Homo sapiens: one gene and its partner. The protein of the gene in region 1 interacts with the protein of each later gene in a pairwise test. Each region holds a gene or a part of one and is shown on either strand. Other genes may lie near its edges.

Region 1 (5,456 bases):
TTTCTCATGGTTTAACGCCATCCCTACTTGGTGCTGTCATCGTGATAGTGAGTTTTCATGAGATCTGGTTGTTTGAAAATATGTGTTACCTCCCCCTTCTTTCTCTTCCCCCTGCTCTGGCCATGTGAAGTGCCGGCTCCCCCTTTGTCTTCTGCCACAATTGTAAGTTTCCTGAGGCCTCCCTAGAAGCCAAGCAGATGCCAGCATCATGCTTCCTGTACAGCCTGTGGAACTGTGAGCCAATTAAACCTCTTTTCTTTATAAATTACCCAGTCTCAGGTATTTCTTTATAGCAGTGCAAGAACAGACTAATACAAAGACTGTGGCAGAGAATGCAGGTGGAGTGCTGAAAAAGGAATCGGGAGGATCAGGCAGGGGCCAGATCACACGGGGCCTTGTGGAAAACACTCATCTCCTTTTCTGTGACATCTACTGTGTCTGCTTGTGATTACAGGTCCACAGATCCAACCGTCCAATCATCTGCAAGGGCTGCAGGAGAACATTCACGAGTCACCTGTCCCAGGGGCTGCGGCGCTTCGGGCTGTGTGACAGCTGCACCTGCGTTACAGACACACCCGATGATGATGATGATTTGATGCCCATCAACCTTAGCTTGGTGGAGGCTTCATCTGAAAGCCAAGAAAAGAGCGACACAGACAATGACTGGCCAATCTATGTGGAGTCGGGTGAGGAAAATGACCCTGCTGGAGATGATTCTGATGACAAACCACAAATTCAGCCTAACTTATCAGACCGAGAGACACTTACGTAGCAATAAATTGGTGGGGAAGAGGAGGTTTTAAAACTTGTTAGTGCTCGTTCTGTTGTTGAAAGATACCATTTGTCCAATTTTGTGGAACCCTGAGAGGAACATTTTTTCACTGTTATTATATGTGCATTTTTATTAGACTATCTGATAGAGGTTGGATTTTGTGACTCAAAGGACAGATAACCTTTTTGTGTGGTGCCCTTGGTTTCTGAGGGCTTTGCTGGCCACTCCTTAATTCTGAGTGAGTCAAAGCAGGCCCTGAGGTCTCCTGTTTTTCTTGCTGTGTGTCCAAACTCTGGTTAGGAGAAAGATAAGAAAATCTCCAGGCTTGTTTTTATATTGATTCAGTCCTCTGCATTCCTTTGTTATCATCCTCTTTCTCTAAAAACCATTAAGTTTTGGGATCAAGTTTACCTTTGCCAAGCCTTTCCTAATGAATTCCACATTAAATTTTCTGGCAAAGTATTAAAGAGAAACCTTCATTGATATAAAGCAGGCAGGGCGGTCTGGCTACATGATCATAAAAGGTACTCCCTAAATCTAGAACAATTTTAAAGGCTTGGAATACTTATGGGCAGACGAACATGGGAATGATCTGAAAGGCTCATTATGGCATCCTGACTTGCCCAGTTGAATTAAATTTTAAGTTAGCCCTGAGAAGGGAGGCTATGACCCCAGGTCTGGATGGTTTCCCTGTCTGGTTTGGCATTTGACGATTCTACACATACAACCTGTTCTGTTATCATAAAACAACTCATTTGGGCAAAACTCAAAATGCTCCCCTACTTTTTCCAGCAATTTCCAAAAGCTGGAGCTGTGTAACTTGGAAATGTAGCTGCCTCTGGCATTCTTTTACTTAGTTTATGCTGATGTAGGGCAGGTGAGCCCAAAAATTGGGGCTTAGCCCAGAGGAGTTCTTGGCTTCACCCAGGAAAGAATTCAAGGGCAAGCCAGTGGTGTTAGACAGCAGCTTGTATTGAAGCAGCAGTGCCCAACAGCAGCTAAGGGGCCGCTCCTCGTGGAGCAGGGCTACACCATAGGCAGTGTGCCCAGAGTAGTAGCTCAGAGGCAGGTCGGCACTTATATTTATACCCACTTTTAGTTACATGCAAATTAAGGGGCAGATTATGCAGCAATATTTAGGAAAATGGTGGTAACTTCCAAGCCGCTGGGTGGTTGCCATGATAAGGGGCAGTGACTTCCAGGTGTTGCCATGGCAATGGTAATTGACATGGCACAGTGATAAGTGTTTCTTATGGAAATCTGCTTCCTGCACCACCCTCCCACCACCGCCCTGTTTTAGCTAGTCCTCAATTTGGTCCATGTCCGAGTCCGGCCTTTGGAGTTGAGTCCTGCCTTCTACCTCCTTGCCTAGAACTTTAATTGGAGGGAAAGTATAAGCCCATAATGCCAAGTAACATTTCTAAAATGTTCATCTTTTAAAAGATCTTCATGAGGGAAAGGGAAGGTTAGTAGCAGAACAGGTTTTTAAAAGCAGTCTACCTTTCGCCCACTTTCCAGCCACACAATTATTGTAACAAAAGAGGCTGAACTCTTTAAAGGGCTAAAGGGCAGGCAGTGTTAGGAATTCGGAATGTAATTGAAGGCAATTTCCATAATTTTGTCTTATGTTAAAATATCCAAAATGGATTTTAAAAGAAATCTTCTTGTCTTCCTTTAAGTGTAGTTGTCTTTCAAAAGGTGGTAAAAGTCACTTTTATTTCTACCTCTTGAACAACAAAAAAGTCAAAAACATTATAAATTGGCTTGTAAATGTTAGCCAAAGCATTAGACAGGTGTTTAAGTCGTACTTCTCAATAGTAGTTAAAACTGGAACAGTGCAACTCAAACTCTGGCCCACAGAGAGGCCCTGTTCTGTAAACTGTTTTCTACCAGTCTGCTACAAGGAAAGTCAGAAATTAAGAATACACATATAGAAATGTTGATAACACTTTGACATTGCTGTGACTCATGGCTTTGTCTTCTTGAGTGAGGTATGGACCAGTTCAGTTCTGGTCAGCTAGAGGGCCACATGGTGCAGAGGTTGGATACCAGCCTGTACAGCAGGACCACGTATTGGTCTGCAGTAGAATGGAAAATTTAAAACTTCTCTTATCACAGGTAGTTCGATAAATATCATTCTTGGCTGTGTGCGGTGGCTCACGCCTATAATCCCAGCACTTTGGGAGGCCAAGGCAGATGGAACACTTGAGGTCAGGAGTTCGATACCAGCCTGACCAACATGGCGAAACCCCGTCTCTAGCAAAAATACAAAAATTAGTCAGGAGTGGTGGCATGTGCCTGTAATCCCAGCTACTCAGGAGGCTGTGGCGAGAGGAACACTTGAGCCTGGAAAAGGTTGCAGTGAGCTGGAATCGTGCCACTCCACTCCAGCCTGGGCAACAGTGTGAGACCTTGTCTCAAAAAAATAATAATAAAATAAATAAATAAAAGAAAAATATTCTAGATCAAGAGTTACTCATTGAAAATTATCAGGGACCAGAGATATTTGTCTTATCTGAAATAAAAATACTAGCTGTGGCCAGGCGCAGTGGCTCACGCCTGTAATCCCAACACTTTGGGAGGCCAAGGCAGGTGGATCACCTGAGGTCGGGAGTTCAAGACCAGCCTGGCCAACATGGAGAAACCCCGTCTCTACTAAAAATACAAAATTAGCCAGGCATGGTGGCGCATGCCTGTAATTCCAGCTACTCAGGAGGCTGAAGCAGGAGAATCGCTTGAACCCAGGAGGCGGAGGTTGCTGTGAGCCGACATCACACCACTGCACTCCAGCCTGGGCAACAAGAGCGAAACTGTCTCCAAAAATGTATACATATATTTGCTGTTATTTTAAAAGAGGGATCTCAGCAAAAAGGAAACCTAAATGGATGTGTAGAAGATTTACTTGGCCAGGAACAGTGTTTGATATTTTTGCTTTCTCTGTTTAAATTATCTCTGATGTTTTAATGACTTTTCTACCTCATAGTTCAGCCTCTTTGCCTGCTTTCTCCAGTGGAGCTATGATCCTCTTCAGTGATTCCGTGACCTCTTCATATCCCTGGGTAAAACATTTTACATTAGAGATTTCACTGTAGGACAGTGATTCTCAGTTGGGGGTGATTTCGTGCCTTGCAGGTGGCTACTGGCATCTAGTGGGTAGAGGCCAGGGAAGCTGCCAAACATCCTGAAATGCACAGGACAGTCCCCACAACAATGAATTCTCCAATTCAAAATGTCAGTAATACCAATGTTGAGAAACTCTGCTGTAAGATAAAGTAGGATTTTTTAAAGGATCTTTAATGAGTGGACTTAATTTTGTGTTCTATTTTAAGCTACCTTTTACCTGCATAATATTTATTTATTTTTAATTTTATTTTATGTATTTATTTATTTATTTTGAGATGGAGTTTCATCTTTGTCACCCAGGCTGGAGTGCAATGGCGTGATCTCGGCTCACTGCAACCTCCACCTCCCAGGTTCAAGAGATTCTTCTGTCTCAGCCTCTTGAGTAGTTGGGATTATAGGCACGCGCCACCACGCCTGGCCAATTTTTGTATTTTTAGTAGAAATGGGGTTTCACCATGTTGGCCAGGCTGGTCTTGAACTCCTGACCTCAAGTGATCCGCCTGCCTCAGCCTCCCAAAGTGCTGGGATTACAGGCGTGAGCCACCGTGCCTGGCTGACCTTCATAATATTTAGTAGCCCCTTATACTCTCGCAAATTTTAGAAAATAGTGGATTAGTAAAATGAAGCGCTGAGGCCAGATGGTTCATAGCTTGCCCAAGATCTGATTTAGGTTTATAATGTGGAAACTTAGAAAATTCTGACTCATTCATACACCCAGAATCGTTACTAGGTTCTGATCATTTTGTTAATTTTTAAAGTAGCAGAATCACTGGGAAGAAAACAGAATGTGACACCTAATGTTTAAATGATTCTCTTTCTTTCGTAATATCTCAGATTGTTGCATTTCTGGTGGACTATTTGGAGTTTGTGTATAGGCACTGGCAATAACTGGATCACTGAGTTCTATCACTTTTAAAGGAGATACTTCCTCTGTCTAGACTATCAGATCATAAATTGGTCCCCTTTAGGTGGTCAGTATTTATAATCACAGTGTCTTTGAGGTTTAATTTGTGGGGTTGGTGGTATTTTTATACTAAGTAAATTTACAGTTGAGCCCAACACAGACCGTTAGTGGTTTAGTTTCTATTCTGGCACATTCCACCCAAGTTCACAAAGGGATATTTTCGTCTCATATTAGATGTATTGCATGAATGGGAACAGGACTCTTACTTGTAATGGAATTCCAAAATGGCATTCTTGGGAAGTTATTTCTCTTGGGGGATGAGGACCCCCTTCTCAAAAGTTGAGAAGGAATGTAAATAGGGCCTTACCTATAATAATTAAGAAATGACATAGTGCATCATGATTCTGATCATTTGGCAGAAAGATGCCGTTCTGATGTAAATATTTTGGTGGCCACCAGACTTTGAATATTCCTTAAGGAAGCTGCTGACCTAGTGTTCTGCAACATGTTATGGAATTGAGTATTCTGGTGGTTTGGAATACTGAGATGGGTTTTTTTTGTTATTGTTCATTGATGTCGTGACAAACCCCAGGGAGAGAAAGGCAACAGGTAGGGCTGCATGCACTGATTCTGGGAGCCGTAGGAAAGAGTGGAGTG
Region 2 (3,500 bases), about 59 Mb from region 1:
AAGAGAACCAGAATATGGGATCTTATTTCTGATCTCCATTTTTTTTAATATATATCTTGAATATTGCTCATGTAGTAAATATTCTACAACTGGATTTAAGGTCCATTGCATATTATATTATAATATATTCAATCACCTTTTACTATTGACCCTATAGATTGTTTCTATTTTTTCCTATTAAGAAAAATGCTGTAATGCACAAACTATCTGGCATAATATTGGTCAAATGTTTATTCTTTCACTGTTTTGGCAAGCTTTTTTTTTTTTTTTTGAGACATGGTCTCTCTGTCACACCACTGTCACTGGAGTGCAGTGGTGCAATTACAGCTCACTGCAGCCTTAACTCCTGCACTCAAGCAATCCTACCCCCTCAGCCTCCTGAGTAGCTTGGATTACAGGCATGTGCCGCTACACTCAGCTAATTTTAAATATTTTTTTTAGAAACAGGATCTTGCTATGTTGCCCAGGCTGGTCTCAAACTCCTGGCCTCAAGTGATCCCCTCCTATCTTGGCCTCCCAATGCACTGGGATTACAGGTGTGAGCCACCATGCCTGGCCAGTAAGCTTTTATTTTTTTTTAAGTATCTACTATATGCCAAGTTTTAATAAGTGAGAAAGATCTGTTCAGTGAAAGAATGATGTATAAACTCTATATTGAAAGTCTCCTCCATACTGGTGAACTCTACTGGAAGGAAGGCTTGCTTCATTCTGTTTGCTACAATGACACCCTTAGCCATGCTTCTAAAATGGGCTATGGGTACCATCTTTGTTTGCCTGGGACAGATCTAGCTTACGGCTATTGTCACAATGTAATTATTATTCCTGCTGCCTTTTCACTCAAGAGTGTCCCAGTTTGGGCTTATATTATGTATTATCCCCTAGTTCCAGGAGGTATAAACCAGAGAGTACATGAAGCCCCAGAATAACCATGACTATATGCCTAGAGTGTCAGTTTTAATCCATGACAAGATATTGAAAACGTTTCATTTATGTGATGAATATTTATTGTCTGTTATATACATGTACTTTTTTAGGTGCTAGGGATAAATCAAACCATAAAACAGAAATTAACACTGTGGTAGTTAGACAATAGACAGAGAGTAAACAAAAGAAGTAAATACTGTGCTCAAAAGTGATTAATGTTACTAAGAAAATGTAAAAGGGAAGGGGAGATAGGAAGTATTGGGGAAGGAGATTGTAATTTTAGTGAGTATGGTTGCTCATAGCCTTCTGTAACATTTGAGCTAAGACTTCAAGGTGGTGAAGGAGTGACCTGTGCAGATATTTGGGGAAGAGCATTCCAAACAGAGGAAACGGCAAGTACAAAGACCCTGAAACGGCAAGTACAAAGACCCTGAGATGGGAGTGTGCCTAGCATTCAAGAATAGCAAGGAGGTCATTGTGGCTAGAATGGGGAAGGTAATTGGAATGAAGTCAAAGAGAGATGTAAAGAGGCTTTCTAATGGAGTGAGATGTGAAACCATTAGAGGTTTTGAGCACAATAGTGACAAGGTGACTTAGCTTTATCAGAATACTCTGTTTAAACTCTGTTTGCTATGTTGCAAGCCGACTGGCTACTATGTTACAGATAGACTCCAGGCTGGCAAGGAGTGTAGTTAAGGAGACTATTGGTATATTAAAACCAACTTGGATATATTATGCAGCAGAAAACAAAAGTGACTTAAAATGTCAAAATAGAAGCCTAGACCTTCATGTATAAAATAGAGGCATTTAAATAATTTTTAGCATATTATAGATTTTCGGGATCCTCCTCCAGTCCTCAAAGTCTGTTTCATTTGTCTGTCTTTAGTACTGTTTTCCAGCTTTTGACATGAATGCACTTTTCTGCTTTCTGCTGTCATTTCCCACTTCAGAATTTGAGGATATTGCATTCACTTTGGTTGCCAGGAAGTTTTACTGTTGTTTAAAATTGTTGAAGTTGTTCTGAAGTGACAGGAAACCTTAATAAACATTTTGATTTTTGTAAAGAGGAGTAGATGCATAATAAGTGAGTAGTGGTGTGGAAGTACCCTTAATGTTTCTCCTCCCTTTCACATCTGTTCTCCACTTGTCATTTTTCTGCTTAAAAACTTCCTATAGCTTTCATGTGCATTCTCTCTTGTCTTCCTCAGCCACATTCTATTTCTATTATTGTTATTATTGTTATTATTATTGAGACAGGGTCTCCCTCTTCCATCACCCAGGCTGGAGTACAGTGGCACGATCATAGTTTAGTAACCTCAAACTCCTGGGCTCAAGGTATCCTTCTGCCTCAGTCTCTGTAGCTGAGACTACAGGCCCGTGTTACAAAGCCCAGCTAATTTTTGTTTGTTTGTTTGTTTTTTAGCTTTTTTAAGAGATAGGGTCTCAAACACCTGGCCTCAAGCAGTCTTCTTGCCTTGGTCTCCTAAAGTGCTGGGATTACAGGCCTGAGCCACCGCCCCAGGCCACATTGTATTTCATTGTCTCTCAGCCCTCCCCCTACCCTAATCATCCAAGCCTTTTTTTTTTCTTGTTCCTGTCTTTACAGACGTAGTTAATTTTTCCTAAAATGTTTTCTTCCACTTTCACTACTTGGTGAATGCTTCAGAACAAAACTTAGCTGTCAACTGAAGGCTTCCTATCACCTTCAGAAATCCTCCCCAACCTAGTAGTATATACATTCTTTTATTACAGGTGTCACCTTGTATTAAGAATGATAACATGTTTCCTTTACTAGACCAAGCTCTTAGTGGCTGCATCAAATTTATTGGTTTTTTTTACATACCCATTGCTGAGCATTTTTTAAGACAGCGTTTATTTAAATGAATTAGTTCTAGCCAGGTGCGGCGGCTCACACCTGTAATCCCAGCACTTTGGGAGGCCAAGGTGGGCAGATCACTTGAGGTCAGGAGTTCAAGACCAGCCTGGCCATTGTGGTGAAACCCCGTCTCTACTAAAAACACAAAAATTAGCTGGGCGTGGTGTTGCGTGCCTGTAATTCCAGCTGCCCATGAGGCTGAGGCATGAGAATCTCTTGAACGCAGGAGGCAGAGGTTGCAGTGAGTGGAGATTACATCACTGCACTCCAACCTGGGCAACAGAGTGAGACTCCATCTCAAAAAAGAAAGAAAATTAGAAAATATATATAATCAGCAACACCTCTGTGAAATTGGGCAAATGATTTAACCTCCCTGAATTGAGTTTCCTTATCTGAAAAATCAGGATAATCATTCCTGCTCTGCCAAGTTCACAGTACTGTTAGGAAGACCTCAAAAGATACTGCATGTGCCGGTGCTTTGAAAATGTCTTAAACTTATGCTATATAGGGCTAGTAGAGCCTAGATACTGTAATAAAATCTGAAGACTTATCTAGTTCTCTTCTGTATCCAGTAGTTTACTGGGTTTTGTATTATTGCCTCCCCTTGTTTTAACTATGTACATTTTTATAAAGAACTGATACTTATTTAAAAGTAGCAATTTATCTGCAGTCAAGGATAGAGGATACTACTGGCAATTGG

The links.
Region 2: the proteins of ZBTB8B (region 1) and CDC7 interact in binary tests that used the Homo sapiens proteins (3 or more experiments, as listed by UniProt).

What each region holds. Positions count from the first base shown.
Region 1 is NC_000001.11:32,484,647-32,490,102, forward strand, and holds part of ZBTB8B (zinc finger and BTB domain-containing protein 8B), read left to right. Parts: intron 1-454; coding exon 455-772; 3' UTR 773-5,456. UniProt on the Homo sapiens protein: May be involved in transcriptional regulation.
Region 2 is NC_000001.11:91,503,851-91,507,350, forward strand, and holds part of CDC7 (cell division cycle 7-related protein kinase), read left to right. Parts: intron 1-3,500. UniProt on the Homo sapiens protein: Kinase involved in initiation of DNA replication. Phosphorylates critical substrates that regulate the G1/S phase transition and initiation of DNA replication, such as MCM proteins and CLASPIN.